Homo sapiens: one gene and its partner. The protein of the gene in region 1 interacts with the protein of each later gene in a biochemical or structural test. Each region holds a gene or a part of one and is shown in the gene's direction. Other genes may lie near its edges. The genes, in order: TSPAN12 and RNF152.

Region 1 (16,353 bases):
GTTGCTGTCTTACATACTGCTTAGTGACTTGCTTACCAATAATTTTCCTAGCCTAACCCAGGACAACCATGTTGTCTTTTGGTCTTGACTTTTCCATATGAGACTGCATGTCTTATTGTCACTCCAGTCATGCAGCAACTAACTCTAGACAGGCAGTCATGGACATAGGATTCCATTTTTTTTTTTTTTTTTTTTTCTGCAAGGAAATCCAAGGACTCCAGTTATTAGGTCAAAGATGTTGCTCGTATTCCAGGTAATTCATATTTGCTGGTGAAGTTTTATTTGCCATGCAGTGCCCACAAAAGTAATCCTAGAAATGAGCAGTACTGTGAGGCATAGCACAACACATCCACATTTTATGTGGAGGATATGATCCAGTGGCATTTTATTTAGTGTGAAACTTCTGTCTTCTAAAAGGGAAGATTCTTTTGGAAGGATGGTCTCCTGCTGTGTAATACTTCATGAATTTCTAGTTTAAAAAAATTAGATTTTCCAAAGATCCACTACTATGTACACATTTCAAAATAAATCACCCAGTTAACTCAAAACAATCTTATCGTGAGAAATTTTGGAAAGCTTGAGTTACTTCTAAGAGTTAAAAATGTTCTTTCCTCCTCTTCTGCATGTCAGACTGCACATGATTACTCTGATGTTTCCGTAAATGCTATTAGTGCACTATGAAAGTGGGAAAGAACTTAAAAAAAAAAAAATCCGGGAGGGCAACAAAGCAATAAGAAGGATCATAGGGCACCATGTTAATAACAAATCACAGGAGGTGGCTCCATAAAGGTTGTGAAAACTAGTTTCTCATTGCAGGAATTGGGTTGGGCCACCCCTTCACCCCCCTTCTCAAACACAAATATTATCATATAATAAAAGCCTGCTTCTCTATGCTTATAACCCAGCCTCCATTCCTTCGACGCCACCATTTTAAAGGGATTTACTGCACGGACTTCTCCCAAGTTCCTAGGCATTATCTTCTGGACCCTATCCTGCAGAGGTGAAGCGTCCCTTTGGGGACTCTCGCTGGGTGAGAGGGACAAGAAACACCCACTAGGACCCAACCCCGGCAGCCAGCGGCTCGAGCATGCGCTGAGAGTTTGTGCAGCTGGCCCTGGCTGCCGCCGCTGCCTCGTCCGGACTCGGAGAGGACTTGGGAGGGACAGCGGCGCTGGGAGGTGGCTTAGCAGAGACTTTCCAGCAACTGCTGCCCAGGACTTTTTTTTTTTTTTTTCTTTTTCCCAGGAGGCGGCGACGGCGGCGGCGGGGGGAGAGGAAGAGAAAGAAGCGTCTCCAGCTGAAGCCAATGCAGCCCTCCGGCTCTCCGCGAAGAAGTTCCCTGCCCCGATGAGCCCCCGCCGTGCGTCCCCGACTATCCCCAGGCGGGCGTGGGGCACCGGGCCCAGCGCCGACGGTAAGTGGCCACGCGTCTGTCGCCTTTCCTGCCCGCTGTCCCGCCAGCCCGCCGGCGGCTGCCCTCCGCGCTGTGTGCTAAACTACTTAAGGGCTGGCTCTGGGGCTCCCTGCCGCCGGCGCTTCCCCTCGCGCCCTGCCGGGGGCGCGCGGACGCGATGGCTGGGTCGGTGGCCGCGCTCGCTTTGTGCTCCGCGGGCGGCTTTGAGCGAGGGGTCGCGGGAGCGTCCCGGGCGGGGGAAGCGGGGTTTGAATGACTAACCCGGCGTCTGCACAGCTGCATCGGCCCTAATTCCCCGGCGCCCCCCGCCCCCCGCCCACTGTCCCAGGCTAATCCATCATTCTGGGGCCGAAAACATCATTTCTCACGTTCTCCCAGAGAAACCCTAGTAGCCGGGCGGAATCTCAACTCCGCGCTGCCCCCTCGCCCCCGCCCCCGCCCCCGCCCCGCCGCCCCAGTCCCTTGCATTCACACCCGAGCTGCGGGACGGGGTAGAGGGGTGCGGAGTTGGAGTGCCCAGGAACTGTCCTAACTAGAAGGGCGCTCATTCTCTCGGGCTTGCCGGTGGCGCCTCTGACGTGTCCGGGGTAGGGGGCAGTGTGGTTTCTCACCTTCAGGACAGTGCCGAGCACAGCTGTCCTCGAGGAGGGGCGTGGAGTGAGGGAGGTTTTCAAGAGCGTCTCATCAGAATGCACAGGGCTCCGCCGCGTGTCCCCTGAGAACGCGAGTTTACTGTGCGACTTCATTCATCCGGATAGTTGCTCTTTTCTTTTCCCAGCAGGTGTTATCTGAAGCCGGTTTGGAACTTTTGGGAGTTTAGTTACCATTATGATTTTAACAAATGATTTTTGATGAGGCGATGTCTCGAATGCACTGGGCCTCGGGACCCTCTGGACCCTGCTGAGGGCGGGTGGAGGAGGGACGGGCAGGCTGTGGGAAGCGTGATGGTGAGATGTCCCGTGTTCTCTCTCCCCCGCCCCCTGCAGATCGCTGCCGTTTTGCCCTTGGGAGTAGGATGTGGTGAAAGGATGGGGCTTCTCCCTTACGGGGCTCACAATGGCCAGAGAAGATTCCGTGAAGTGTCTGCGCTGCCTGCTCTACGCCCTCAATCTGCTCTTTTGGGTAAGTAAGTTTCACTGCACCAACAGGTGGGAACGGCTGGCTCTGGTTTTCTGCAGCCACCGGATAATGCGCCAAAGGGCATGGCTAAGCATTAATTAATTACATGGGATAACACCCTTTATTTTTCAGAGAAGTAAAATTTGACCTTCTTAAAATGCCTTTGATCTAGCTCAAGTTCCATTTGTAATTAGAACAAAGAAATCCACCCCTGGATACTACTGGCAGTAAAATTAGACTTGAAGTTAATCTAGGGATATAAATAAATGCACGTGCTTCTACTCATAGATAAGAAAATTATGACATACTACTTAGGGAACTGCTTGTTTGCGGGAATTTTAGATAATTGTGCAAGCCATAAATTGTTTCTTTACATCTCTGTCGCCTGTAAAATCTAGTTGGGCCAAGTCTTAATATATTTTTTGTGGGCGGGGACGAGGGGGAGGTGGTGGTGGAATTCACACCCAGATAACCTATCACAGAAAGGCTGAGTAGATTTGTCTAGGGGATTCCATACGGTCTGAAGGGTGATTTTTATGTAACTAATTCTAAGTTGGCAAAGTTTAAGGAATTGTGTGTATGCTTTTGGAAAATCCCATAACCATTTAAGGAAATAAAATACATAAAATGTAACAAGCTCATGGAAATCTTTATGCCCTATGAGTTAATGACTTTTTATGCTTTAAATCTTAATAAAGTATGATTAATAATCGTATTATTACTTATAAAACTTAGGAAAATGTAACAATTTAAACAGTAAATGTTGCTTCAGGAGGCTGCCATTCTTAAGCAAATTGTTCTTTCCATTTTTTTGTGTTCTATTAATAATTTTATTCAAAATTTTCTGTTACAAATTTTATTGTGCAATTTATTTATGTGGCTGACTGGCTGGCGTGCTGACTGGCTGGCATTGCCCAGCCTTTTTTTCATAGGGCTATTACATGTGGTCTCTAGAAGATGACATTTAGGTTGAACTGCACCTTATAGATGGCCCCATTTTAAAGGATAAATTAAGTCTTACTTCAGTGAGTAATCTGAAAATATCTAAAATGGCAGCATTCCTTTTCTCAACATTAAAGCATTAATTTCTCAAAATTAAAGCATTGGGTAGTTAAATTCACCATTTGGAAATGTAAAATCACAAGTTGATCTTATTGTAGTTTATACTTCTTAAAAGCTTGATTTTTAAGTGAATCATTAAATTACCTGGATCATTAAAAGTTATTAAGAGTTTAAACTCCATTTCTTTAAGATGTATGATAATTATCACTCCTGTTTACTAGTTTTTCACTTTTCTACATTGTGCTTTTTAATTATAGAATCATCACATTCCACTTCTAAAAGGAGCTTTAAAGATGGCCTGGTTGAACGTCCTTCCTTTGTGAGTGAGGAAATTAAGTGCAGATTAAGTGACTTGCCAAAGATCAGATAGTCCAATGGTGGCAGTGCCAGGAACAGAATTCAGCTTTCTTGCCCCTAGACAGTGTCTTTCACTTGACCCTTACTGAGTTTTGAACCTTAGAATTACTAAGATTGTTGTTGTTGTTGTTTAATAAAGAATAAAGCTTTGAAAAATTTGTTAATACTTTACATTGTGTGGGAAAAAAGAACCAAATCATTCAACAAAAATATCACTCCTCTTGGAAATGAAATTTGCATAAAAGCACCTATTCCTGAAACTCTTCCAGGGCTCTTTGTGTCCCCAGAGAATGTAAACGTTATTTCTTTGTTGTTACCCTGTACTTAAACCTTCTAACTTTCTATGTTTGTGTGTGGTGTGTGTGTGTGAGTGTGTTCTGGTTTATTGACTTATTTAGATTGCTTCCCTATTTCTCCAGCCCTCCTCTTCTCCCAATATCACCTACGCTTCAACAAAATAATCCAGGTTAAGCATCTTGTATACGTTTTTCTTTATTTTGTTTCATACAAAGATAGATTTACTCATACCTGTCCACAACAGATACACAATGCTATACATGTAAATTCTTGATTTTTTTGCTGTTAAATTAGTTTCTCATTTGGGTTAGAGTCATAGGAGTGGAATTGCTATGTAAAAAAGTATGTGATAACAACAACAAAAACAAAAGTAGCCAACCTATCTAACTAACATACAAAATAGCTAACGCTTCTTACTATGTTTGCCAGGCACATTTAGTGTCTGTTTCCTAGCCTGTAAAATAGGAATCATAGTTCCCTATCTTTTAGAGTTGTGAGGAGGATTAGAGTTAACATATATACAGCGCTGAGAACAGTGGCACATAATAAGTGCTATCTCTGCAATAGCAGTATTGCAGTTATTACTATAACTACTACAATGATGATGATGTTCTAGCAGATTACCAGGAGGTGGATTGCTACTATCATTATGGTACTAATCATAGTAATTGTTACTGTTATGATTAATACTGCTACTATTGCTACCACTACTGCAATTCCTTTGACCCAACAATCTTGTTCTGGGTATCTGTTCCCTAGAAATAAAAGCAGTAATTACCCCATTATATGTACAAAAATATTTGTTGCCATCTTGTTGGTAATATGGCACTTCTAAATCTTTGCCAATCTGAAACATTTAAAGTATTATCTCATTGTTACTTTATTTTGTACCTACCCTACTACCAGTGAGCAGGAGCATCATTTTATGTATATTTTTCATATACATCATTTCATTTCATATTCATTAACTATTTCATATTTATCATTTAGGTTTGCCCTATATTTTAAGTGTTAATTTCATTTATGTTATCTGTTTCTATACAATAGTTAAACAAACTTTTCTATATTCTGTGTAATATAACTTTCTTTTCTTTTCTTTTTTTTTTTTTTTTGGGACGGAGTCTCACTCTGTCACCAGGCTGCAGTCCAGTGGCGCAATCTCAGCTCACTGCAACCTCCACCTCCCGGGTTCAGGCGATTCTCCTGCCTCAGCCTCCTGAGTAGCTGGGACTACAGGTGTGCACCACCATGCCCAGCTAATTTTTGTATTTTTTAGTAGAGATGGGGTTTCATCATATTGGCCAGGCTAGTCTCGAACTCCTGACCTCATGATCCACCCACCTCGGCCTCTCAAAGTGCTGGGATTACAGGTGTGAGCCACTGTGCCCGGCCTGTAATATAATTTTCTACAGGATTTTATATGTATAAATACGAATATATTATGTATAAAAATAAATATAAATATATGTCTAAATATAAATATGTGTGTGTATATATATATATATATATATATCTGCATTTCTTGACTTGGTTAAGGTTTGTTTTTAAAAATGTTCTTTAAGATTATTTTATCCAATTAAAAATATCTGTTGAGGCTGGGTGCAGTGGCTCACACCTGTAATGCAAGCACTTTGGGAGGCCAAGGCAGGTGGTTAATGAGGTCAAGAGATTGAGACCATACTGGCCAACATGGTGAAACCCTGTCTCTACTAAAAATACAAAAATTAGCCGGGTGTCGTGGCGTGCACCTGTAATTCCAGCTGCTCAGGAGGCTGAGGTAGGAGAATCACTTGAACCTGGGAGGCAGAGGTTGCAGTTAGCAGAGATTGCCCCACTGCACTACAGGCTGGTGACAGAGTGAGACTCTGTCTCAAATTAAAAAAAAAAAAAAAAATCTGCTGGGATTTTTGTTAGAATAGTATGAAATGTATAATAGGCTAATTTTAGGGAAACTGATTTTACTTCTTCAGTGTTAAGGCAATGTTTGCAGATCCTATCATTACCAAGTCAGAAGGTGTTTTCAGCCTGTGCTGGAGACATTCCTGGCCATTGTTAACATTACTCTCATCTAGTTCTCATAATAGACCCATAAAATAGTTTTCTTTCTTAGTCTCTCTCTCTCTCTCTCTTTTTTTTAGATAAAGAAACTGGTACTCAGTAGTTCAATAACTTGCTAGTAAGTAGCAGAACAGGAATTGAAAGTCCAGTTTTGTTTTTTATCCAAGTGTAGTAGAAGTTAAATTGCTGGAAACAGTGATGGATTTATTTGCATGAGAGAAGTCAAGTAAACATCCTCAGAAGGAAGGGATTAGCTGTCCACCTGCTCATTCCAAGTTCTCTAGAACAGTGCTTCTAAAACCTCAGAGTGCATGCACACCTGGAGATCTTGTTAAAATGCAGATTTGGATTTAGTATGTTGTGCGTTCTATCTGAGAGTGCATTTCTAACAAGCTCCTCTGTGATGCCAATGTTGCTGGTCTGAGTGCCACACCCTGAGGAGCAAGGCTTTAATACTAGCTTTTAGTTCTCATGGGAATTACAAGTAGAACAAACCAGTGTGGCATATGAACCCCACTTCTTAAACCAGACTTTACATTCTGACTATGGAGAGGGAGATTGTTCCTCCCTCTGGGTCTGCAAGATTGACAACCTTGTCCCCATTACCCATGAGGTGAAAAGCTATAGGCTTTTACTCTCCACTGGCATTTTAAGTAGTCTTAGTTTTTTTAAATCTATTTTTACTATATTGGTACCTTCTTACCTTTTCTACCCCACTAGGATTTTAGGGAAAAAAAAATAAATCTTAATCACAAAAACATTGGGAACCCATTCAATTTTGTTTTCCTGTTCTGAGAGTCAAAAATCAAACTGAGAGTTTTTTTTTTAAGTTAAAAAGTATATCTTGAGTACTTTTTAAAAAATGTAAGGCATAGATGTGTTTTTAAGTGTAAGCTATAAATGCGTCTAAGAAGAAACAATCCATAGCACATTCAAGATCACACATGCTCTGCATTCTCTTTATTGTATGGATCCAGTCACCTTGATTTGCCATCTGTAGAGTGTCTTTTCCACATCATGAAGAAGCCAGATTCTAGTACTATTGTACTGGGGTCGGCACAAAAGTATTGGGCCTTCTAGGTTTGTCATGAGTATTGTGGGTCTGTGATGGGAAGGAGCACATAGGAGATGGTGTGGGTAGGTGAACTGCCTGAGGGTTCTTTTGAGACCATGATTCACCTTCTCTCCATGGTGGAGTAAGGACGTGGGTTACCTTTCCTTCAAATTTATACGCTTTTATTACTAGTAAAATTTAAATGGCATATTATTTAAAGAAATGAGAGCTTTCTACCATTTTAAAGACAGTTTCTGTAGCTTTTTGGTCATTTGTATTTCTTAGATGGTAATTTTCTATTATTGCAAATATAGATAAATATGGTTCTCCTTGAAAATTTCTGACATTGGTGAACATTTAAAATTCATCAAATATGTGTTTGTTTCTAATTTTCTAAATGTATAATATAAACTCCCATATCTCACCATTATATAAGAACCATTGTTTTTTACTTACCGTTACTAAAGATAATAGCAATAGAGAAGAACTACCCTGATTAAATATGAAAAGTAACTTATAAAAGAAAGTCTAAAAAAGTAGACAGGAAATTTAGTTTATGCTTTTGAGATATATGCGTGGCAGATGAAATGACAGGAGGCTCAATGCTCTCTTTCTTTTTCTCTGGCCATCCGTAGTGAACCTTAAGTGTTTGATCCACACAGAATCTGAAGAGTTAGATCCTTGGCAAGTAGAAGTTTGAATTCACAGGAAGGACATTTATGAATCATATTAAAATACTACATTTTAAATTGGTGTCCCCAACTTTACGCTATGAATGGTATTCAAGTATTTTTGAACTCTTCCTAAGGAATAGTGGAAAGCCCTCCAACAAATATTTGTGGTCTTTTAAAATAAATTTTCACCATAAAAAATTCCTTTAGTCAGCCGGACGCGGTGTCTCATGCCTGTAATCCCAGCACTTTGGGAGGCCCAGGCAGGTGGATCACCTGAGGTCAGGAGTTCGAGACCAGGCTGACCAAAATGGCGAAACCCTGTCTCTACTAAAAATACAAAAATAAGCTGGGTGTGGTGGCATGCATCTGTAATCCTAGCTACTGGGGGGACTGAGGCAGGAGAACTGCTTGAACCTGGGAGGGGGAGATTGCAGTGAGCCAAGATCGTGTCACTGCACTCCAGTCTGGGCAACAAAGTGAGACTCTATTTCAAAAAAAAAAAAAAATCTTTTAGTCTCAGAGCAAAGCTGATCGACCTTTTTATATATACATTGTGGCTCAGCTGAGCAAAGACTTGAGCCGCTGCATGCTTCTTAAGGAATGTTTTTTGAGAAGTACATGGAAGATTCTTCATAGCACATTCTGCTGCATACTGAGCAATAGGCTCCTCCCTCATTGACTCCACTCAGGGAATAATCCTGAGCTGGGACACTGGGGAAGTGGAGTTTACTGCAGTTAGACTGCACAGAAACTATCATGTAGAATGAGGCATTTTACTCTTCTTCTACTTATAGTGACTTTAGGGTGATCATATACTTTATCATGGCAACTAGGACAATGTGGAGACTGAAGAAAAGGGGATGTTTCTGCTAAGAATTATGCCCAAACAACAGAGGCTTATAGTGGGTCTCTTCTGGTCAGATCAGGATGCATGGTCACCCTATCTATAGGAAAACATGGTGGTCTAGAAAAACTATCGGTCAGAACAGCTCCAGGGTGATACTGATTTATTCAGCTCTAATTAATTGATGTTCATTCTGAAATGATACCCACCAGTAATCTCCAGACTGTATTTCAGCCATCATTTACATTGCCTATTCTTTCACAGCTTTAGCAAATAGTGTTACCTGTTTGCTCTCTTTCCTTCTGCCCTTCCCCTGGTAGAGGGAAGCTGAGAAGGCACAGACTCACAAAAAGGCAAAAGGGAGCAGGCCTGGCAACATGAAACACACGTGTGACTCACCTCGTGTGACCAGCCTCCAAATAATCAAGGCTTGATCTTACTTTTACATTTTAACAAATAGCAATTTAAAGGCTAAGTATGGTGGCTCATGCCTGTAACCTCAGCACTTGGGAGGCCAAGGCAGGAGGATCAGTTGAGCCCAGGAGTTCCAGGTGCAATGAGCTATGATCATGCCTAGGAGACAGAAAAAAACACCAGAAAAATTTAAATTCTTTTTTAAAAGAAGGAAAGCTTCTGGTCCAATTTTCCCATTTTCAAGATTAGCCAATAAAAATTATGAAAGTTTGAATTATTTGTCGAAGTCCTTTTCTATACAGACAAAGCTGTAACTAAGATTCAGGTCTTTTATGTTCCTCTCTTTGCTAACAGGTTTGACATGAAAAGTTTAGGTATGTGGTTTTAGACAGCTGTCATCCTTGAACAGAAATTATTTGTGTCACTGTCATCTTATGTGGGACTATATGTTACAGATGGCAGACAGTTTAAAGATAGAAAGGACTGTTTCTTGACCGTGACCTTACTATTTTATGGAAATTATAGGTACACATTTCATAATACACTTAGGAAATGCGCATACACATACAATTCTGATTCAGAAAACAACTTGATTCAAGACTTGTTTTTATATAATTAGATGCAAGCAAAAGCAGACCATGTCCTCAACACTGCAAATTTTATGTTTCCAAATATTTGTTGAAAGCTAGCACTTTCTAAGTATTTTGCAAGAGACATTGTGACAAATGTCCTGCCAAATAATATATTAAATGTATTTCTATCAAGTAACACTTTGTTTAGTTTTAAAATATCTCCTTGAGCTTCAGGTAACATGTTGCAATACTGGAGAAAGCAAAAGGAGCTATAAAACCTAGCTGCCTGTGATAACTATAATGTTCCTAATAATTTAGCCAATGTGAGTGGCATTTGAAGGATTATTTTCATAGTTACTTTGGAAAATTAGCAGAAAATAACATGTTTAGCAAGGAGTCCTGAATTCCTCACATAAGTTGTGCTTCTAGGTTTAATATCAGGTTTAGTTATTGAGTTGACCTAGTCTCGTTTTAGTTCAGTTTCTTGCTATAGGCATGCACTATATTTGTTTTTATTGTTATCATTTTCTCAAGCCCAGTGAGTAAAGCCTCACTTGTTGAGGATGAAACTGTTCTCAGACATTTAATGTTGCTGGAATCAATTCCTTGAGAAAAAGCCATTTTATTCCCAGGGTTGCTTGTTTACTATAGAGTAAGGCTTGGTGTTATTATTTATTTTGACTAATGTTCTGTGCACAGCTGCAATGTTTGGGTATACTCCTGTGAAAAAAAACATTGGGACAGAGTATAGTGCAAAGTTTTAGTTTAAAGTACTTTTGAGAACACTTTAGCCAGCTTCTAATCTGATATATAAATCTTTGACTTTGTTTTTCAGAAACCATCTTTCTTCTGGAAAACTTCCAGTGATAGAAAGCTCGGTTCTTATTAAAACATCTTCTAATTTGTTTAAAAATCTCTAACAGCTTATCTAGCAGGATGAAACCATCTCCCTTTAATTTAATTATTTTCTCATTCACTCACCTAACCTATATTAGGCACCACTACTGAGCCTGGTACTTTTCTGTGTGATGGGGAGATAGGCCATGTTCTGTGCCCTCTACTGGGATGAGATGGAGGGACAGAAACAAGAACAATAGGATAACTGCTTTATGAGGTATTTGCAAAGAGCATTAAGAGGGAAAAGATCTGTAGGTAAGGCGGGAGTTGGGAGAGAATCTTTACACTGGACTTGATGTTCAAGCTGGGCTTGAAGGAAAAGTAGATGTTGCTCAGCACATGAGAACAGGAAAGCTGGGGCAGGATGGTATTCCAGGCAGAAGGCACTGCAGGAGTGAAGATGTATAGGCACTGGGAGGTGTGCATGGTGCATTTTGGAGATGTGCAAGCAGTTTTGTTGTTTTCCATATATAGAATGTGTCTAGGAAAGAGCTGGCAGGAAGCACGGTTTAAGAAAAAGTTTAAGGGGTAGCTGAAGAGGGCCTGGTGTGCCCTGCTCAAGAGTTTAAACTTTGTTCTCTCAGAGGCAGTTGAGGGAAGACGAAATAAATGGTAGTTGAAGAAGAACCATAAAGGGTAGCTATAAGCAGAAGAACTTGATCTATGTTCTATAAAAGTAACCGAAGGGTGAATTGGAGGTGAAATCTGTGAGCTGAAGAGTTCTATTATAAAGTAATTATAGTTGGATAGCAAAAGAGGATGAAGGCCTGAACTAGCCAGTTGTGGCAGAAAAGGGGGAGGAATTCACCCGACGCCTTGCCAGAACAATTTGAAGGACTTGAGACTAATTAGATATAGAGCTGAGGAAAAGGGAGAGGTTCAGCTTCCCTGCCAAGTCTCTAGTTTACATGATTGAAGGATTGATTATACCATTTACAGGAAAAACAGTGGGAGGGACATACAGGTTTTGGAGGAATGGAGGTAAGTTTAGTGTTAGAGATGTTGAAATTGACCGTGATAGTATGATAGATAGTTATATCCCAGAGTTTCCTTTCTTGTCCATCTGGTAGACCTTCAAACAGCTGAAGATTCCATTTCTGAATTGATTTAGGAATAGTCTAATCTTTCAGACTGACTGAGAAAGATTAAGAGAAAACCCTTAAGTCTAAAGTGACTTGCAGTAATTATAGGTTATGTATATGAGAGTCTCACTCTGGTTTTTTGTTTTTTTTTTTTTTGTCATATAGCTCTTCTATGAAGTAGGACTTATTTTTATATCATTTTACAGGTGAGAAAACTGAGGCATAGGAAAGTTCAAGCTGAATGTCATATAGCTAAAAGGCAGTAGAGCTGGAATTCCTAGCTGAAATTCAAAATTCAGTGGCTTCTCATTGTCATGATGGTGAAGCTGATATACCTTGAAATGGCTTCCAAGACTCCATGCAGTCTCACCCCTGCCTGCTTTTTCCTTCTCACCATGTGCCAATTTTGCTTACCATGTCATGTTGCCTTCCCTCGTGGGGCCTTTGTTCTTTCTGACCAGAAGGTTATTTTCAACCCTCCTTTTCCTGAGTAACTTGATAATTATCCTTTAGATCTTAGCTCTCTTAGAGAAGTTCCTTTGACCCCGTGGAATGGGTCAGGCCCTCCCAAAGGAATTTGTACAGAAACTTGTACTATGTCTTCTCAGCGCTTGTTACAGTTCTGTTACATATTTATATCCCTGATAAGTTGATTAACCTGTGTCCTCTTCACTTAGTTAATTGCACCACAGAGGCAGTGTCTGTTACTGTTCATCAGTGTATCCCTAACACATAGCACAGTGCCTGGCAAAGAGTGGGTGACCAATATATGATTTTTGAATGGAAGAATGACTTCAAAGCCCAGGCTTTTAATCATCCTGCCATATAAGAAATGTCTTGGAATACACCACTTAAAAGATATACACTTTTTTTGTTGTTAAAAATGGAAGACCTATATGTAGTAACTAAACTGATAATGAATTGTACACTATGAAGAATGAAATAATGTTTTGACACGACTAAAAGCTGTGTTACTGAAAACTGGCTAAACAGCCTATAAAGCCAGTATAGAACAGAGAAACCAACAGCAGTCATTACTTTGAAGAGTGATAAAGAGAGGAGTTTTTTATAACTGTAAAATAATTTTAGATAATGAAATAAAATACCACATGATATGGTTTGGATTTGTGTCCCTGCCAAATCTCATGTTGAATGTTGGCTGAGAGGCCTGGTGTGAGGTGACTGGATCATGGGGACGGATTTCCCCCTTGCTGTTCTCATGGTAGAGAGTGAGTTCTCAAGAGATCTGGTTATTTAAAAGTGTGTAGCACCTCCCCCTTCTCTCTCTTACTCCTCCTCTGGCCAGGTAAGATGTGCCTGCTTCCCCTTCCACCATGTTTGAAAGTTTCCTGAGGCCTCCCCAGCCATGCTTCCTGTACATCCTGTGGAACCATAAGCCAATTAAACCTCTGCTCTTTATAAATTACCCAGTTTCAGGTATTACTTTATGGCAATGCTAGAATGGGCTAATACAGAAAATTGGTATCAGGAATGGAGCATTGCTATAAACATACCTGAATATGTGAAAGTGGCTTTGTAACTCAGTAACAGGCAGAAATTTGAACAGTTTGAAAGGCTCAGAAGACAGAAAGATGAGGGAAAGTTTGGAACTTTCTAGAGACTAGTTAAATTGTTGTGATAAAAATGCTGATAGTAATATTGACAAATGAAGTCCAGACTGATGTGGTCTGAGATGAAGATGAGGAACTTACTGAGAACTGGAATAAAGGTCACTCTTGCTATGCTTTAGCAAAGAGACTTGTGGCATTGTTCCCCTGCTTTAGGTATCTGTGGAACTTTGAACTTGAGAGTGATGATTTAGGGTAATCTGGCAGAACAAATTTCTAAGCAGGAAAGTGTTTAAGATTTGGCCTGGTTGATTCTAAAATGTATGGTCATATATGTAAGTAAAGAGATGTTCTAAAACTGGAACTTATATTTAGAAGGAAAGCAGATCATAAAAGTTTAGAAAATTTGCAGCTTGACCATGTGGTAGAAAAGATAAACTAATTTTCCGGAAAGGAATTCAAACTGGCTGCAGAAATTTGCATAAGCAAAGGGGAGCTGAATATTAATATTCAAGACAATGAGGAAAATGCCTCAAAGGCATTTCAGAGACCTTCATAGCAGACCCTCCCATCACAGGCCCGAAAGCCTAGGAGGAAAGAATGGTTTCATGGACTGGGCCCAGGGCCCTGCTGCCCTGCAGAACCTTGGGACACTACTCCCTATGATCCAGCTGCTTCAGCTCCAGCTGTGGCTTAAAGGGGCCCAGGTACATCTCAGGCCACTTTTCCAGAAGATGCAAGCCATTAGCCTAGGCAGCTTCCATGTGGTGTTAAGCCTGTGGGTGCACAGAGGGCAACAGTTAAGACTTGGGAGCCTCTGACTCAATTTCAGAGGATGTATGCAAATGCCTGGATATCCAGGCAAAAGTCTGCTGCAGGGACAGAGCCCTCATGGAGAATCTCTACTAGAGCAGTGCCGAAGGGAAATGTGGGGTTTGAGCCCCCACAAAGAGTCCCCACTAAGGCACTGCCTAGTGGAGCAGTGTGAAGAGGGCCACTCTCCTCCAGACCACAGAATGATAGACCCACTGACGACTTGCATCATGTGCCTGGAGAAGCTTCAGGCACTCAATGGCAGCCTGTGAAAGAAAGCAACCACAGGGACTGTACCCTGCGGAACCACAGGGATAGAGCTGCCCAAAGCCTTGGGGGCCCACCCCTTGCATCAGTTTTGCCTGGATGTGAGACATGGCGTTAAAGGAGATTATTTTGGAGCTTTAAGATTTAATGACTGCCCTGCTGGGTTTGGGACTTGCATGGGGCCTGTAGCCCCTTTGTTTTGGCCAGTTTCTTCCTTTTGGAATGGTACTGTTTAGTGAATGCCTGTACCTCCATTGTATATTGGAAGTAACTAACTGGTTTTGATTTTACAGTCTCATAGGCAGAAGGGACTTGACTTGTCTCAAGTGGGACTTTGGACTGTGGACTTTTGAGTTAATGCTGGAATCAAAGTAAGACTTTGGGGGACTGTTGGAAAGGCATGATGGTATTTTGGAATGTGAAAAGGACATGAGATTTGGGAGGGGCCAGGGGTTGAATGATATGGTTTGGATTAGTGTCCCCACCGAAATCTCATGTCGAATTGTGATCCTCAGTGTTGTGGAAGTGACCTGGTGGGAGGTGATTGGATCATGGAGACGGACTTTCCCCTTGCTGTTCTTCTGGTAGTGAGTGAGTTCTCAAGAGGTCTGGTTGTTTGAAAATGTGTAGCACCTTCCTCTGCTCTCTCTTTCTCCTGCTCTGGCCATGTAAGATGTGCCTGCTTCCCCTCCCACCATGATTGAAAGTTTCCTGAGGCCTCCCCAGCCATGTTTCCTGTACAGCCTGAGGAACCATGAGCCAACTAAACCTCTTTTCTTCATAAATTACCCAGTTTCAGGTATTTATAACAGTGTGAGAATGGACTAATACACCACATTAATAGACTTTTCTGTCCCGGAGATACTTACAAGGTTTTAAGGACCCACATATAGCCAAGTAGAGGGAGAACATGTGCCCACAGATTTCATCAAAGAGCCAACAGTCTTCTGCTAGCTCTGTGTGTTTTAATATGTTCTGCTGTCAATTAGGTATGCCAAGGCCAACAGACCAGGAGATGGCTGCCATTGAGAAGACAGTTTATTATATTCGTAAATCCCAAGACATGGAGTACACATCTCATTATGGGGGGCCAAGAGGGGAAACACTAGGGTCAGTCACAAGGCACAAAGAGAGATGGGAACTGTGGGCAAGTGCTTATACCATGGTTCCTATGGGAAGGTATAGGTGAGGCAGGTAAGTGGGTTTAGGATTGGCCAGTTTGAACAATTGGCCTTGGGGTGATTAGGGCAGGTGTGTAGTGGCCCCTAAGTGGGAGAGCCCCATAAGGGAGGTACTTAGGAGTTTGGATTCTGGATTGCATGGTTTGTATTTGAAAAGTGCACCCCTGGGAGAACATCTCCTCTTGAGGATGGAACAAGCAACGAGGGAGGCAGCAGGCCAAGGCAAGGTGACTCAGGCACATTTTTAGGTTCTCCAGAGCAGGATGTGTCTGGCATATATATGCAGAACAGATGTTAATGCATCAAAAGAAGCTAGAAACATGGCTAATTCACTGCGACTGACTCACTTATAACTTTTATGAGTTTTACAATCTGTTCACTTCTAACAGACATGAGAATAATAATAACTGGCCTAATTCTACTCTTGAATGTGGTCCCAGGGTTCTTAACCTAACTTATAGGCCATTGACTCCTTTGACAGTCTTATAATTTTCAGAATATTAAACTGTATTCTAATTTGTGGATTAAAATACAGATTAATAGTAATATTAATTAACAGTGATTAATTACTAATAGTAATTAATTACTATAATCTGAATTTTATTTCAGATCCATTATTTCAGAAAGGGTTTTTAAATGGTGATGCTCTAGAATGCGTCCTACAAATATTAGCAGAAATT
Region 2 (16,962 bases), on another chromosome or scaffold:
CAGCAGAGGGCAAGACATTGGATTCAGACTTGGGGGTCTCAAAAAACAGTGGTGGGACCTCCTGGCTCTTTTGTTCCTTTTCTCCTTTCTCAAAGTGGCACCATTCCATGATCTGGCAGCTGGAGCAGCAGGAGGGGAGGGGCCAAGTGGATGCCAGGAACCTGATAGCCAATGGAAAGGAAAGATAAGGAGGACAGTTGGAACCGCATGGGTGACAGAAGGTGACCTGGAGGGAAGGTGAGTAGGACAGATGGTGGAGGTGGCAGACAGTGGGGTGAGAGGGGAGCTCCACATCCAACCCTTCCCTGGCTGATCACATGTGGTCACTCCAATCCATTAGGGAGGGCGAACACTGTCTTGTGTTGATTGTACAAGGAATGGAGCTCAGTGTATGATGATTCTCCTCTATCGTACTTATAGCAAAGACACCAGCAATTTGCTAGTGGATGTGAGGATCTTACTCAACCCCGAACTGCACAAACATGATAAGAACACAGCAGATACCTGCTGCTTAGGAGGGTGTCCAGAGGACTTTGGCATCATAGTCTGAGCTGATGTTTAGCCAGGACACACACCATAAAGGCCATACTGATTGTGTATGGTCATTGCCCAAAATGATAGGTGGAGGTCTGCGCCTGCAGGTTGTTAAACATGTTGCATGGTGACCGACCATCGCCCTTGGCAATGGTCACATCATTCTAGCCAACTGTTTTGGAATGTGTGTTGTGCATATCGAAGATGAGGTTAAAAAAATAGAGAGGCGGGGTGTGTTGACTCACGCCTGTAATCCTAGCACTTTAGGATCACTTGAGGTGGGTGGGTCACTTGAGGTCAGGAGTTCGAGACCAGCCTGGTCAACTGGTGAAACCCCATCTCTATTAAAAACACAAAAATTAGCCCGGCGTCGTGGCACATGCCTGTAATCCCAGCTACTCAGGAAGCTAAGGCAGGAGAATTGCTTGAACCCAGAAGGCCAAGATTGCGCCACTGCACTCCAGCCTGGGCGACAGAGGGAGACTCCATCTCAAAACCCAAAAAAAAAAAAAAAAAAAAGAAAGAAAGAAAATAGAGATGGCTTTGTTCAATCCACCACTACTTTTAGAAAAGCAATTTGGATTATTTCCTATTCAAATCTTTTGAGGTTTCCAAAATACTTCAGTATTTTGTTCTAGATGAAGTTTCATTGTCCTAAGTAGCACTGGGCTCTAAATAGGAAAGAGATTAGACAATATGTCAAATTAATACCTTTTGCATCCAGAACATCTTACCAGAATAAGAAGTCTGTGGGATTGGTTTATATAGGGCCCCAAAATAAGAACAGTTTTGAAGTGTGCACTATATTAAGCAATCATTACTAGTAAACTTTTTGAGGCTAAATAAACTTTAAGACTTTTTTTTGTTTTTTTTTTTTTTGAGATGGAGTCTCGCTCTGTTGCCCAGGCTGGAGTGCAGTGGTGTGATCTCGGCTCACTGCAGCCTTAGCCTCCCAGGTTCCAGCCATTCTCCTGCCTCAGCCTCCCTGGTAGCTGGGATTACAGGCACATGCCACCACACCTGGCTAATTTTTACATTTTCAGTAGAGACGGGGTTTTACCATGTTGGCCAGGCTGGTCTCGAACTCCTGGTCTCAGGTGATCCACCTGCCTTGGCCTCCCAATGTGATAGGATTACAGGTGTGAGCCACCATGCCTGGCCTAACTTTAAGACTTCTTAGACTTTTTAAGACTATATATACTTTAAGGTGGCTAATATCACATAAGGGAAAAGTAAATTGGCAGATCAATTTGGTCTGCAAATTTTAAACATCTATTAGGAAGGATGATAACGTGTTCGGTTAAAGACGACTTTGTGGCTTATTATTGACAGCTTGTGAAAATTGTCTAAACATGGGATCCCACTTCAATGCTTTTAAACAGTTTATTGAGGTATAATTTACATACCATAAAATCCACTCGTGTTAAGTGTAGAATTCAATGATTTTTAGTAGATTTACTGGGTTGTGCAACTACCACCCTAATTCAGTTTCAAGGTGCAATTTTAACATGTAAAATTCAAACACGTTGAGTAGAAAAGTCACTCTCAGTATTGGACTGGATTAGGATCTGTAGTGATAATCAAGCACTGAATAGGGTTTGCTTGTTTCCTCCTCCCGATTTCTCTCTCTCTCTGCCTTCTTGCCCCACTGTCCGCCTTCTTCTTAGCGTGTTAGGTGCTGAGGATACAAGTTGAAAGATGATCTCTGCCCTCCCAGATCAGGAAGACAGTAATGAAAAGCGACTGAAGAGATCATCACATTCTTTTGTGAAAGTGTCATCCCCGACAGAAGGGCTGCCCTGGGTATTATGGGATCACATTAATCTCAGCTCCATGCCAGGTTCTGGGAGATTTAAGGGCTCAGCTCAATAAACATTTATTGGGCACCTGTGCTCCATGCTGCAGGTACAAAGATGAAGAACTCATCCCTGCCCCAATGTAAGCAACTCTAATACAACCTCAGGTGACTCAGCATCAATCAATGTTATAGATCTGACTGTCCCTGTAACCCAGTTCCAGCATCTCGACCTTTGCCCGCGGGGAAGTGCAGACACCCCCCACTTGTTCCCTCTGATGATGGCAACAGGCTTTCCCTATTTACTGGCATGACACTGTGCTTTTCTTCCTGCAGTTTTCAGCTCAGAAAATGCCTCCTCAGGGAGGCCCTCCCTGGCCACTGATCTAAAATTTCCCCCCCAACACACAGACTTCATAATGCCCCACCCCCACTTTTTCTTTTTCTTTTTCTTTTTTCTATTCTTTTTTTTTCTTTTTTCTTTTCTTTTTTTTTTTTTTTGAGACAGAGTCTCGCTCTGTCGCCCAGGCTGGAGTGCAGTGGTGTGAGCTCCGCTCACTGCAAGCTCCGCCTCCCGGGTTCACGCCATTCTCCCGCCTCAGCCTCCCGAGTAGCTGGGACTGCAGGCGCCCGCCACCTCGCCCGGCTAATTTTTTGTATTTTTAGTAGAGACGGGGTTTCACCGTGTTAGCCGGGATGGTCTCGATCTCCTGACCTCGTGATCCGCCCGCCTCGGCCTCCCAAAGTGCTGGGATTACAGGCGTGAGCCACCGCGCCCGGCCCCCACTTTGTTTTCTCCCTTACCTTTTTCACTCTCCAACATACGATTTATTTATTTATCATGGGACTAAACTCTGATTTTTTTTTTTTCATCTTGCCCAAATTCCTATCTAAGGGGTCTGGGGAGTCATGCCCTACAAATCATAAATTCTCATCAGATGGGTTTTATTTAACCCTATATATCATGATTTACTTTCCAACCTGACTCTGGCATAACATTATAAGGCAAAAAAGAATATCAAAATATTTTACCCCAAAACATGTTTCTTTCCATATTTTGAAATGACTCTGCAAAGCTGTTCTTTGTGGAGGAAAATTGGCATCTGTAAAGAATCTCTATTAACATAGCTAGATATTTTTCTTCCAGACGCTCTCAATCCTAAAGAGATTAACTAAGATCTGAATAGGAAACATTTGTCACCTACTGTCTCTAAGGGCAGCCGCTATAAGATTTCAAAAGAACTTTGGTCTCCATAATCTTGATCTTAACCTGAACATTCCCTTTCTATTTCAGGTCTTTAGACAAACTCAACCAATTGTCAACCAGAAAATGTTTAAATTCACCTATAGCCTGGAAGCCCCTGCTTTGAGTTGTTCCGCCTTTCTGGACCAGTATTTCTTAAATGTATCTGATTGGTGTCTCATGCCTCCCTAAAATGTATAAAACCAAGCTGTACCCTGACCACCTTGGGCACATGTTCTCGGGACCTCCTGAGGGCTGTGTCATGGGCCATGGTCACTCATATTTGGCTCAGAATAAATCTCTTCAAATATTTTACAGAGTTCAACTCTTTTCATCAATATTTTTGGTATTGTCTGATTCCTCCATTAGAATGTAAGTTCTGTGAGGGCAGGAATTTGGGGGCGTTTTCTCTATCCTAACCCTAGGACCAGGTTCCCAGTACATAGTCCATACTCAATGAATATTTGTTGTATGAATTCATGAATATTTGGATCTTTATCTCAGTCCCCAGTGCTGGGGTCCCATCCTGACAGCCCTAGTCCTTCAAGACCTGGGATTCAGCCTTGATTCCCTCTCTCTCTCCCACACATGGGCAGTGCCCAGTCTCCAGGGCAATGCCAGATTCTCTGACCATGCTGCTTGCTGGCTTGCAGCTCTAAACACTACCTGGTCCTAACAGCCTTGATCCTGGAATTTCTCACCGAAGACTCTGCTGGGACGTGTTGTTGCCTGTTCTTCCTCTGACTCAAACTGTTTTTGCCCGCCCCAGTGCTGGCCTACGACCAGCCTTAAGAACTGGCCTATCCCAGTCTGCCCTAGTTAATTAACCTTCTCTGTGTGACAGCTTTACAAGACTGGACAGAAGGCAGAACACCCATGATGCTCTGTGAATTAAAATCCCAGCCAGTGGAAGTGAAAGAGTCAGGATGGGGGTGGTTATTCCACATCGAGTTGAATGCTTGAATCCCCCAAACAATAGTTCCAAAAGCAGCTGAATAAAAGAGTTGAAAAATTTTGGAACAATTACTGATCCCTGAAATTAGCTTCTGAAGAGTAGTCTTTAAAGTCATTCTTGTATAATCATAACATTTCTAGGCTGAACTTTCCTAGTAAAATTTGGGATGTTATAACTCATCTTCCTTATTCCAACTCCTTGCCAACATCAGAGTTTTCAAGACCCTCATTAACTTCTCCTTAAAGTGAATTTCTGGAGCTGGGCTTGGTGGCTTACGCCTGCAATTCCAGCACTTTGGGAGGCTGAGGCAGGAAGATCACTTGAGGCCAGGATCAAGACCAAACCAGAGCAACAAAGAGAGACCCCTATCTCTACAAAAATAAAAAAATACAAAAATTAACTGGGCATGGTGGCACTCCTGAAGTCTCCCAGCTACTTGGGAGGCTGAGGCAGGGGGATGCTTGAGCCTGGGAGATTGAGGTTGTGGTGAGCCAGGATTTTGGCCACTACACTCCAGCCTGGGCAACACAGTGAGACCCTGTCTCAAAAAAAAAAAAAAAAAAAAAAAAATTCTCCTTCCTGCCCTGAAGTTGGGGCTTAAAATAAAGACTCTTGAAGTCTTCTACTTCAGGATTACCTTAGGCTTCTAAAACATGGATACAGCTTTTACTCTTTTCAGGTGTACGAAGGAGGTTTTAGCTTGGGTGAACAAAGGGATAAGGATCAGTCAGATGACCATAGGAGGCAACGTTTTAATTGGGATCCCAGGGACAACTGATACCCATGAAGCTTTATCTGTTTCTAGATGACCAGTTTTATGTATGTGCTTAAGGACAGCACTTTTGGAAACCCCATCAACAGGTCGTAATTGTGGGACATGACAAGAGTGCTCTCAGTACATTGTGAGTTTTATAGTAGGTTACCTAGAGTCCCCACTGGCTCACAGGGCTTCCTCTAAAAAAAAAAAAAAAAAAAAAAAAAAAAAAAAAAAAAGGCGCGGTGGCTCATGCCTGCAATCCCAGCACTTTGGGAGGCCGAGGCGGGCGGATCACCTGAGGTCAGGAGTTCGAGACCAGCCTGGCCAACATGGCGAAACCCCATCTCTACCAAAAATACAAAAATTAGCAGGACGTGGTGGTGCGGGCCTGTAATCCCAGCTACTTGGAAGGCTGAGGCAGGAGAATCGCTTGAACCCGGAAGTTGGAGGTTTCAGTGAGCTGAGATCGCGCCACTGCACTCCAGCCTGGGTGACAGAGCGAGAGTCCATCTTCAAAAAAAAAAAAACAGAAAAAGTAAAAAAAGAAATCTTGGCAGAAGCATTTCAATAAGCTACTTGGGGGAGTGAAAATGGGGACTCTTTCCTTGCGGATACTACGGACCTTAAGACAAAGACGGCTCCACTCCAGCAGTGGGGAAAGGCAGCAAGTGCCGCTGGAATCCGTGGGGATCACACTCAACTGAGCCCTGCTGCTGGGGACCGGGTAACGTCCGCAGGCTGAACTTCATCTCAAGAAGAGAGTTTTAGGTTTTCATGCTGCAGAGAAATCCTTTAAAAAGGCACCAAAGGGCATGGAACTATCTTCTACCAAGGACCTTTCTCCTCCATTCTCCTATTTCGCAGTTAACTCAAGAGGCGGGAGATTTTCTCCGGGGAACAAGACATTCTAAGCACCTCCCTAGGTCGAAGTTAGGTTTTAAGGTGTGGAATAGGGTGGGCCCCGAGGTTCCGTGGGGTTCGCGCTTCCATATAACCCCTAGGACTTGCATCTCTTTACTCCCCTGCTTCTTGTCCCCCATTCGAGGGATTCAAGTAGTGGGGTGTCCATTCGGGCCTCTTTGGAAAGCGGGGCCCCACCCTGGCTGGACTACGTGAACTTTTAGGGGCAGCCAAAAAGTATCCGGTGACGAGGATGCAGGGCAGCTTCTGGAAACCTGATGATCTCAGCTCCTCCCTCTCGCTGTCCGGGTCCTAGGCACAGACTGGGCACCCCCCAACCCACCCACCGCGGCCCCGGCCCCCTTCCCGGCCCTGCCCCTCCTCCCGGCTGCCCAGGCCTCCTTTCACACCTGCCGCCAGCTCAGGTCCCGCTTTTGCACGGTAGAGAGACGGCGTCGAGGTCCTGGCCGAGGGTAGGCACTGGGGGCAAAGCCGAGGGAGCGCGCGAGAGAGGGTAGGCAGCCCCTCACCCCGGGGGAGGTGGGCGATTCGGGACTGACGGAGAGAAGTCCCGGGCCCGCCGGGCTGTGGGCGGGGAGGAGGGGGTGGAGCCGCCGGGGAGGGCGGTGCCGCGGGGAGCGGAGCCCAGCCTCTCCCCCCACCCCCTTTGGTGCCGGAGTCTCAGTGACACAAAAAGCTCTCGCTCGGTGCCGAGCGCCTGGCGGCGGTGTCCGACCGCGAACGCGGAGGGCGGCCGGGCAGGTGGGGGTGCCGCCCGAAGGGCCGGGCCGGGTGCTGGGGCTGCAGGCGCCGCCGCCGCGCTGTCAGCGTCCGCCCCGTGGCTCTCGGCCGGAGGAGCGGCGGCCGCCGGCCCGGGGCGCGAGTCTGGCTGAAAGGAGCGGGCGCGCCGGGACCACCCGGCGATGCTGTCGCCGCCGCCGCCGCCTCTGTAGCGAGCACCCGAGCCCGCCGCGGAGAAAGGTCAGTGAGTTTCGGTTTGTTTCTCTGCTCTGCCGGCTCCGGATCGGGGGCGGACAGAGGGGTGCGCAGGGATGTCTGCGCCCCTACGGCGGCCGCGCCGAAGCCGTGGAAGCGGGAAAGGGCAGCTGCCGCCTGCTGTAACTGGGGAGATCTTCTGGACCGCGGAGGGGGTGGCGGGGCCGCAGGGTCCCGGGGAGGGGAGCGCGGGGTCTGGCGGGGCACGGGGGAGGTGGTCCCGGGAGTTGCGTGTCTCCTGAGAGCTGGCGGAGTTGGGCGGGCGGCCGCGGCGGGGAGCGGCGCTGTCGGCTGCTCGGCCGAGTCCTCGGATGCCCCCTGGAGCTCCGGTCCGAGGGAGCTTTCCTCGTGCCCGCGCCGCGCGCGCCCCTGGGTGTGCACGTGCGCGCGCGCCCGCCCCAGTTGCGCCCCCGGCCCGCACACACCCCGGCTCATCTTCTCCCGGTCCCCTTGTCTCGCGCCTTCTCCAGCCCTAGAAGTTGCCCCAGGGCCCCTCCCGGGATTAGAGAGCGCTGTGAAGGGCCAGATGTTGGGGGTCTTTTGTGCAGACACACGCGCCTGGGGCGCTTGCTCCTGGAAGGACAGCGGCAGGACAAAGCCAGCTGGACTCGTGGGGCGCTGCTCGGGAAGCGGCGGTCCCCAATCCCGCCTGGGGTCGGGGCATGGCTTGGGGAGCGCTGCCTGGGTCTGGAGAGAGTAGAGAAATCGCCAAAGCAGAGTGACGGTGACTTGATGAGGTGACGGTGACTTGATGAGGTGGCGGTGACTTGATGAGGTGGCGGACAGGGGCAAACGAAAGAAAGATGCTCGGGATTGCCGCGCTGTGTGCCTGTCTGCGCGGCTGACTAGGCGCCCCGCATTCCCATATGACCGGGTTACCTGGTAGATTTTGCCAGTGTGTCTTTGCCCCAAGATGTTATTCCCCACCTGCTCCGATTTCTTTCTTTCCTAGGGCTTACTGTTGCTAGTAGGCGCTCTGCCACCAGAGGGGAACTCGTGGGCGGGGGAGACTGCGGAGGAGGGGGGAGGTGGTTATTTATCCTGTAGAGACAATTAGGAGCCGTGACGCCCCCTTCTCGGCCGCCAGCCCTCCACACCTCATCTGCCTTGCTCCACCTCCCTAGTGCACCCGCTCCAGCCCCGTCTGCCCAGGAGGGCGCTTGGATTTCCTTCTCCGCGGCGCGTATCTAACCCTTCCTGCATGTATTTCACTGCAGGCTGAAGAAAGCTCAGTCTCAATTGTGTTTCCTGCCTGTCAGCCTCTTGCCTCCTAAACGTGTACCATTTCCACTTGATGTCATCACGCAGAAGGGGTGAAAGAGACTCGGTGACAGATACAGGTAACCCCCCACGATCTGGGTAGCGCCTGGGTGTCTCTGGGTCATTTGGGCCGACAGTGCTGGCACAGGGCTGTTTGGGTGGTTTCTGCATCAACATCGTTCCTATCTGTGAGAAGGTGTGGGGGCTGCTAAAACTCCTGGTTCAAAGAAATAAATTGCAAATGACTTTATACCTTCCCTTTGAAGAAGCCATTGGAGGTAGGTGCAGGGTGAATTTGGGATTGTAGAAATCCCACCTGGTTTCCTTTCATGGGAATTTTGATATAATTCATACACAGGCAGTTGTATCTGAATGTTAGGTTTCCATAGATGCCTGCTTTCTTATCTGTAGTAATAGATTTAGGCTTCAGTCTAGAGGTGGGGTATCCTTTGTTGAAAAGGTATCATTGGAAGGCTGATTGTACTTTTGCCCAGTGCTCTAATTGAGCACCGGTCAAATGCAGTGACCTTCGTATGAAATACTGTCTTTCTTCTGTTCCTTCATTGTAATAGTGTTTGCAATATTAAGAGAGACATGCTAGCAGTGAGTACTGGGAGGTGGAAGGGAGGGCTGTTGGGGGCAGCAGAAAGAGAACAGAGAAAACAGCTTGAGTGAAGTTTCCATTTAGATAGCCATGAACCAGTAGACTCTCATTCTGGATTTTATCTTTAGGTTATTGGGGCTTTTCCAAAAACTCTGGCCTGTTCTTTTCTTTCCAAGGATAGTTCTGTTTTGATGTCAGCCTAGCCAGATCTGGGGTTATCTTGATAAGAGTGCAATGAAAAAACGTAACCTTCAGACTTAGCAGGACACTCCGGCATTAGCATTTTCTGCTAGAGGGCAGAGTCCTGCGCATCCTACACTAGTAGCAGGGAATAAGAATGGTTATGGAAATGGGCTTTCGATTTTTCTTGTAGGAAGACAGATTGCTGAGGGCCAAAGGCTCCTGGTCTACTCTCTTTTACATTGCAGTAACACCTTGGTATCTGTGACAGATTCTCTCTTCACCATTTTCCTCCAAATCCCTTGAAAAATGAAGTTAAAAACTTGAAAGATTTATTATTCACCTCCAATGTAGTTTTGTTTTGGAAGGTGACTTTAAAAACATAGGTGACACTAGCATTTATCCTTCTACTACAAGCATTCAGGAGTCACTAGTAAAAGCAGTTGAGTTATCTAGTCCCAGGTGAAACAAAGGCCAGTGCTTTGCAAAGATCAGATGAGTAATGTGGTGCTAAGATAGAGGTATTTTTGACAAGTAATTTTTATGTCAGCAATAGTACAGGGTGTGTACTGTGTTGCTGCAAGAAGAAAAAACATGTGATGGGATAATAGGGAATGTAATAATGCAATAGAAACAAGGGTGTGGTTTTTTTTTTAATAGAAAGAATAAACACTTCGCACACAAAATTCCACATGGCAAAACAGTAGCCTGCCCATGTAAATGCACGTCCAAGAACAAAGATAGCCACAGTGCAGTGTTAGGTTTCATTGTGGTTTTAAATTGTGTACAGTAATAAATCATAATAAAGTGTCCATTGATGCTTAATTTTTTTTATATAAGAAGGAGGCTCCCCACCCTCAGATGTGTTTAGCTTTAGGCTGGAGGATCCCTAGAGGCTATTAGGCTGATCTCTGCCTCCAATGCCTGCTTCCTTTCTACAATGCTCATTTATTCATTTAGCAGATGTTTATTGGCACCTGATAGATAATGGACTCTGTGATAGATAATGGACTCAAGGGGTTGGGGTTGGGTGTAGGGGGAGACACAAAATTGAACTCCCTATAGGAAGACCTGATTCTAATTAACTTCAATGGAAGCTCAAGAGAGGTAGGATTGGACTTCTGGGGAGAGAAAATATGGTCATCCAGCCTCAACTTTAATGCCTCTTTCATTGAGGAGCTCACTGCTTCATAAATGGCTGTTGCTGTTGTCAGAAGGTGGCATTTTCATTGTAGTCTTTTTAGCTGAATTCCATACAGTTCGGTCCTTACATTGTTGAGGGTCATTCTGTTTTCATTTCTAATTCCCTCAGAGTTGTTTGAACCCACCTATGCTGTCAGCACCCTCTGCTTTTCAAGGTAGTGTTCAGTTCCTGATGAAGTTGAATTTTGAAACAAATGTTGCTTTTCCATATTATCTGATTTAGAAAACAGATTGATGGGATGCTTTTGCAGATTTTTCTCTTTTTTAAACAGTGACGTACCAGCAAGATAGGTGAGGTTATGCTGCAGTAACAAATACCTCCAAGTCTCCATAGCTAAATACAGTTTCTTTCCTTCCCATGCTGCATCCAGTGTGGTTGGCAGGTGGACCCTGCTCATCGTAGTCACTCAAGGACTCAAACTGATGGAGTCTTGGTCTTGATGTGAGCTTGCAAGATCATTGCAGCATCGGGAAGGAAATGCTGCAGGGTCTTGCTCTAGCAATTATGTGATCCTACCCAGAGGTGAGTTCCATCACTTTGGCCAGAACTGGGCATATGACCCTATTTAATCACAATTCAATATTTCTTGTGCTGAAAAAGGGAGAAGTGGATATGGGTGAGTAGCACTAGTGACTTCCACAGGGATCTGGTCTAGGTGAGGTTAGAAAGTGTGTCCTATGGGACCTAGCTCAGTGCTTGGTGGGTATTGGATGTCACAAGAGTATTGATTGAATCAACAACCTGTAATTTACAACCTGTATATTTACTATTCCAACCTGTAATTTACTAATATATGGTCCTACCCCCACCTGTAATGTACTACTAATATGTTGATATGGTATTTACTAACATGGTTGTACACTGGTCATCAAATAAAATAATTATAATCCTCTCTTTGCCTATTTCAAGTGCATGTTTACTCTGAAGTGAAAGGCCATTAGGTATTTTCAAGGCTGATTCTAGGAGGTTGTGAGCTTAGCATTATGTAATAGAGAGGTGTTACTTACAGACTTTCTCTTCCTCACCATCTGCCTCTTGTTTAAGGCTTCCTGAGTTTGTTTGGAACCGCCCAGGGTAGAAAAAGAGTGGCAATGGGCCTAGGGCCACCCAGGAGGTGGCCTCCTGCAGCAGAGACCACAGGGCAACAGATAAGATCTGAAGGGGGCAGGAATGTGTTTAGGGTAACCTTGGGTCACCCTTTTGTTACTTTGATGTTTAGAAAAAGCAATTTGGGCAAGAGGCTTTTTCTGGTCACAGGACTAGTAGAACACCCAGAGAGTTTAGGGACATTTGTGCTTCCATCAGCAACTGTATTGACTAGGAGGGTGGTGAGTTCTAAAGCCTTCCTTGCCTCACTCTCCCTAAAAAGAGTTGGATGCTATGGAATAGGCATTGCAAGGTGCTCTGGATTCAGCAGTTGGTGGCTTGCAGAGATTTTGCTTTGGGAAGAGCTGTTCACTCATATATCTTTGTTCACATTGTGATAACGGCATGCACGGGTGAGCCATTTTAAAGATTTGATAAATACCTTAAGCATAAGTGTAGAATTTAACAAAATAATATTGCTTTTGGTTCAGTAATCACCTTGGCAAAGTCATTTTTATAAAGATAGCTCTCCAAATAAGGAAGTGGTGTGGTAAACTATGTTAGTCTCCAAGTCACAGTGACTGAGGGGATATCAGTATCAACCTAGGGAGGTTGAGACCACCCGGCTTCATTCAAGTGATAAGATGTAGCACCCAAAGCGTTTCTGAATTGGGAGATGAGCAGCTTGGAGACCAGCAGGAAGAACCAGATATAGACCATCCAAAAACCCATTCAGGGTGCCTGGGGTTGGGCTGAGGGCCAGGCACAGACTGAGGGAGAAGGAAAATGAAAGCCCCGAGGGACTAGTCTTGAACTATATTTGGGAAGCCCCAAAATGCATTTCTATATTTTCTCTGGCCTCTGGGTCCCTACCACTTTAATTTCATACCCAAGTCGGCTGGTCAGGTAGAGGACTCTTGTGGCATGAAAGTGGTTTCTGGCACTGCCCATTGTGACGTCATGGAAACCGGAAAGGAAGAAGGTGTTGGTTTTCCTGCTTCTTTTCCCATGGCTTCGAGAGTTACACTGTGTGATCCAGCAGTCTGACTCCATGATTGAAATCACAATTGGGATAAAGTTGGTAGAGATGCTTCTTAATTTACAGTGGGGTTATATCCTCATAAACCCCTCATAAGTTAAAAATATTGTAAGTGGAAAATGCATTTAATACACCTACTGACATCATAGCTCAGCCTTGTCTGCCTTAACTGTGCCCAGAAATGCGCATTAGCCTACAATGGGGGCAAAATCATGTAACAAGAAGCCTATTTTGTATTAAAGCATCAAATATCTCATGTAGTTTATTGAATACTGTATTGAAAGTGAAAAACAGATTGGTCGTATAGGCACTCAAAGTACGGTTTCTACTGAATGTGTATTGTTTTCACACCATTGTAAAGTCAAAAAATCAAAGGTCATAGGTCAAACAGTTGTAAGTAGGGAACCGTCTGTGCTTGTTACATGCTTAGGGATTTTCAATTTCTAATTGACTCACTGTCATTGTAGGATTTAAAGAGGGAGACCTCAAATAGTGTATCTGTGACCTGCATCTCCTTTGGGTGGTTCTTGATGTCCATGATTTCTTGGCCTAGATCACGTTTGGCTGCTAAGGCCTGGACTACGTTCTTCGTGGAGTTGTGAGGGGGCTGCTTGTGATCGCCTAGGAGTGGAGAGGATGCCTTATTTACCCCTTGATATACTAATGCCTGCATAAATAAAACTCATTGCAAACATCCTGCATGATGAAACTTACTCAAACATCACATAGACTTCCTGGTTACCTGCCTTTCATGCAAAGGAGGGGCTGAGCAAATGAAGATGTGCTGCTGGTGGGAGCAAAGTTATGAGGAAGTAGAATCTCCAAATGCTGTGTTCTGTGCTTGTATTTTCTCTTTCTACAACCTCCTCTCCCCTGCCACTATCGCATTCCCACCTACCAAGGAAGTGTAACTTTCCCGGCTCAGTTCTGATCTAGACATCCAGATAATCACACTTGGTGCACTCCTCACTGAGGTTTGACAAGAATTGAAGAGATTTTGGTAAAAGCTTTGACAGATACTGTAGAAATAGGGAGCATTCTTTTTTTTTTTTTTTTTTTTGAGATGGAGTCTCACTCTGTCACCCAGGCTGGAGTGCAGTGGGGCATGATCTCAGCTCACTGTAACCTCTGCCTCCTGGGTTCAAACTATTCTCCTGCCTCAGCCTCTCGAGTAGCTGGGATTACTGGGATAATTTTTTCTATTTTTAGTAGAGACAGGGTTTCATCATGTTGGCCAGGCTGGTCTTGAACTCCTGACCTCGTGATCCACCCGCCTTGGGCTCCCAAAATGCTGGAATTACAGGCGTGAGCCACCGCACCTAGCCAGGAGCATTCTTCTTACTATTGCTGTTTCTGCTCCTTGACAGATTCACTTAGTGACAGTTGCCACTGCCGCATCTTAGTCAAGAACCTTGTTTCTCTCTGGGCTATGACAATGGTCTTGCTCACTTTCTGGCTTTCCCACCCCACTCCAGTTTGGAAAATGCTGTCACTCTTAGACCATTAGGCCAATTAATCCTTCATCCCCTCACTTAATAACTTTTAGTTGCCCTTGTGGGAGGAAGCTCATATTCTTCAGTTTTGCTTTTCAAGTTTTCCCCAGGTTGACCCCAAACTTCCTTTCCAACCTCGACTTTTGCTCCGCCTGACTTTAAAACTGAACATTAGCTGGGATGGTTAATCCACTGTTGCCCAAAATGTTTTTCATTGCCTCTTTCTTATTCTAGCACATTCTGTGGCCTAAAATGTCCTCTTCCTTCCTCTGCCTCTATCCTATCATCGAAGCCTCAGTTCAGCTCTCAACTCTTCTGAAAAATTTAACTTGATCACATTAGCCTTTAGAAATTCTTTATAATCCAAAGTTCTCTGGCAAAATTGCCTCCATCTCTCATTTCATTCAACATTCATTCATTCATTCTACAAAGGCCACTTGTCATAGATTGTCTTGTATTATCACCTACGATTGAAGTGTCTTTTTCTTTCTGTTTAATTGCAAAGAATAGAAATTCACTCAAGCTTGTTTGCATAAAGGGAGGTGAATTGAAGAGATGTCCCAGGATGTCTTGTCATCAAGCCACATTTCCCAAGAGTTCCAGTGAATGGGACCCTTCCAGTTATCATTCACCCTGGACCTGCTTAGTGCAGGAGAGGGTTGGGGGCACAGTTCCTTCCAAGGGGGCCTGTGGCTGGCTGATGTAGCAGTTGTGACCTGCAATTAGCCTACAATGGGGGCAAAATCATGTAACAAAAAGCCTATTTTGTATTAAAGCATCAAATATCTCATGTAGTTTATTGAATACTGTATTGAAAGTGAAAAACAGATTGGTTGTATAGGCACTCAAAGAGATCTCAGTTCTCTTGCAAGCTCCTTAAAGATGACTGGATGAGGCTTTACACCATTGTGTGTTTGCCACCGTGTTTGTACACAGGAAGGGCTCAATAAACAAATCATTGGTGACTCTTTGACAACACAGAAAACGATTTTGACTTACAGTGATTTAAAGGAATTTTAGACCCTTTTAGCTTGAAGTCTTAAAGGAAGTTAAGAAGATAGAAACTTATTTTTAAGAGCTTCCCCTACTTGCATTAATAATGATTAAATGTTGAATCAAATTAGAATGACCAGGCTGCAGTACGTATACCAATGTTTGGGAGGTGAATGTTCTCAATGAGGGTCATGATTCTAACAAAATTAGTTGTTACTCAAAGCCTGTTTTTCAACTTCCATTTGCCTCCTACTTTGCCCACAAAAAAAAAAAAAAAAAAAAAAAAAAAAGAAAGCAAAAGAAAGCAAAAGAAAAAAAACCTCTACTTGGTGACATACAACAAGCAGCTTTAGGACTTTACAGCCTACCAGACCACCCCACAATCTAACGGAGCAGGCATTGATGCCTGGATTTGTGATGACTGGGTGTAGTTGCCCACCGCTGACTGCCCCACCTGCGTTTATAATTAAAGGCTTCAATACCTTTGTGATATACATCTGTTTTACCTCCCTTTTTTTGATTTTGGAATACTCATTCACATGATAGAAACTCTTCTTTGATACTCAAAATGCTTGATCATTATGAGAGTGTTATTATGAAAGAGGGAAATATGTTCAGCTGCTTGAAGAAAATGACCAGAAATACATTAATATTAAAATAACGCTCTCGGCTGGGCGTGGTGGCTCACGCCTGTAATTCCAGCACTTTGGGAGGCTGAGGCGGGTGGATTACTTGAGGTCAGGAGTTTGAGACCAGCCTGGCCAACATGGTGAAATCCCATCTCTACTAAAAATACAAAAATTATCCAAGCATGATGGTGTGCACCTGTAATCCCAGCTACTTGGGAGGCTGAGGCAGGAGAATTGCCTGAACCTGGGAGGCAGAAGTTGCAGTGAGTTGAGATCGCACCACTGCACTCCAGCCTGGGCAAAAGACCGAGGCTCTGTCTCAAACAAACAAACAAAACACTCTCAGTTTGAAAGGTAGTGAATAGGGCTGAGATAAGTGTCTCAGGAACCAAGTATTTGTTGTGATATTCTTTTGCAGTTGTGTTGTTCTGGGGTAGGTTTGCAAATTGCTTCCTCGAAGATTAATAATATGAGATTAGAAGTGGTTGGTGAGCACATGGACAAATTTGTGTACTTTGGAGAATTTACCCCTTTTGTTGCATGAGACATAAGATTACTGCCATTTTAAGTGAGTAATAGTTAATTCAACCATGCAGGTAAAGAGGTGTCCTTAACTGGGATAAATAGTCCATCCACTCCACTCCTTTACATTGGTACTTCAGAAACTGAAGGTACAGATCCATCCATTCACCTATGGTGGTGTGTAAAATAGCATTTGAAACACTGAGCATCAGGTATTTAAACCACTTATTAGGCAAACAATTGCATTCATTAAATGTATTTTGAATGGCCAGGCATGGTGACTCACGCCTGTAATCCCAGCACTTTGGGAGGCTGAGGCAGGCAGATCACCTGAAGTCAGGAGTTCAAGACCAGCCTGGCCAACATGGAGAAACCCCGTCTCTACTAAAAGATACAAATTAGGCAGGCATGGTGGTGGGCACCTGTAATCCTAGCTACTCTGGAGGCTGAGGCAGGAAGAATTGCTTGAACCTGAGAGGTGGAGGTTGCAGTGAGCTGAGATTGTGCCACTGCACTCCAGCCTGGGCGACAGAATGAGACTGTCTCAAACAAACAAACAAACAAAAGAATGTTGAATGCCTATGTTTTACCAGGCATAATTCTAAAAAAATCCCTGCCTTCTAGCTTCCTGTAGGTATTTAACTCATAATTAATTTGGTTTTCTGCTTTTTTTTTTTTTTGTAATGGCAAAGCTAAAAGGGTAGAGAATAAAAGAAATGTATCTGATATTCTCTCAATTCTTGATACCTTAGCATATATGCCTGCCTTACAT

What was found.
Region 2: the proteins of TSPAN12 (region 1) and RNF152 form a complex in vitro, tested with the Homo sapiens proteins (one study listed by BioGRID).

What each region holds. Positions count from the first base shown.
Region 1 is NC_000007.14:120,842,881-120,859,233, reverse strand, and holds the start of TSPAN12 (tetraspanin-12), read left to right. Parts: upstream 1-1,089; 5' UTR 1,090-1,414; intron 1,415-2,025; exon of another isoform or gene 2,026-2,399; intron 2,400-2,400; 5' UTR 2,401-2,470; coding exon 2,471-2,536; intron 2,537-16,353. UniProt on the Homo sapiens protein: Regulator of cell surface receptor signal transduction. Plays a central role in retinal vascularization by regulating norrin (NDP) signal transduction.
Region 2 is NC_000018.10:61,884,353-61,901,314, reverse strand, and holds the start of RNF152 (E3 ubiquitin-protein ligase RNF152), read left to right. Parts: upstream 1-8,307; 5' UTR 8,308-8,520; intron 8,521-16,962. UniProt on the Homo sapiens protein: E3 ubiquitin-protein ligase that acts as a negative regulator of mTORC1 signaling by mediating ubiquitination of RagA/RRAGA and RHEB.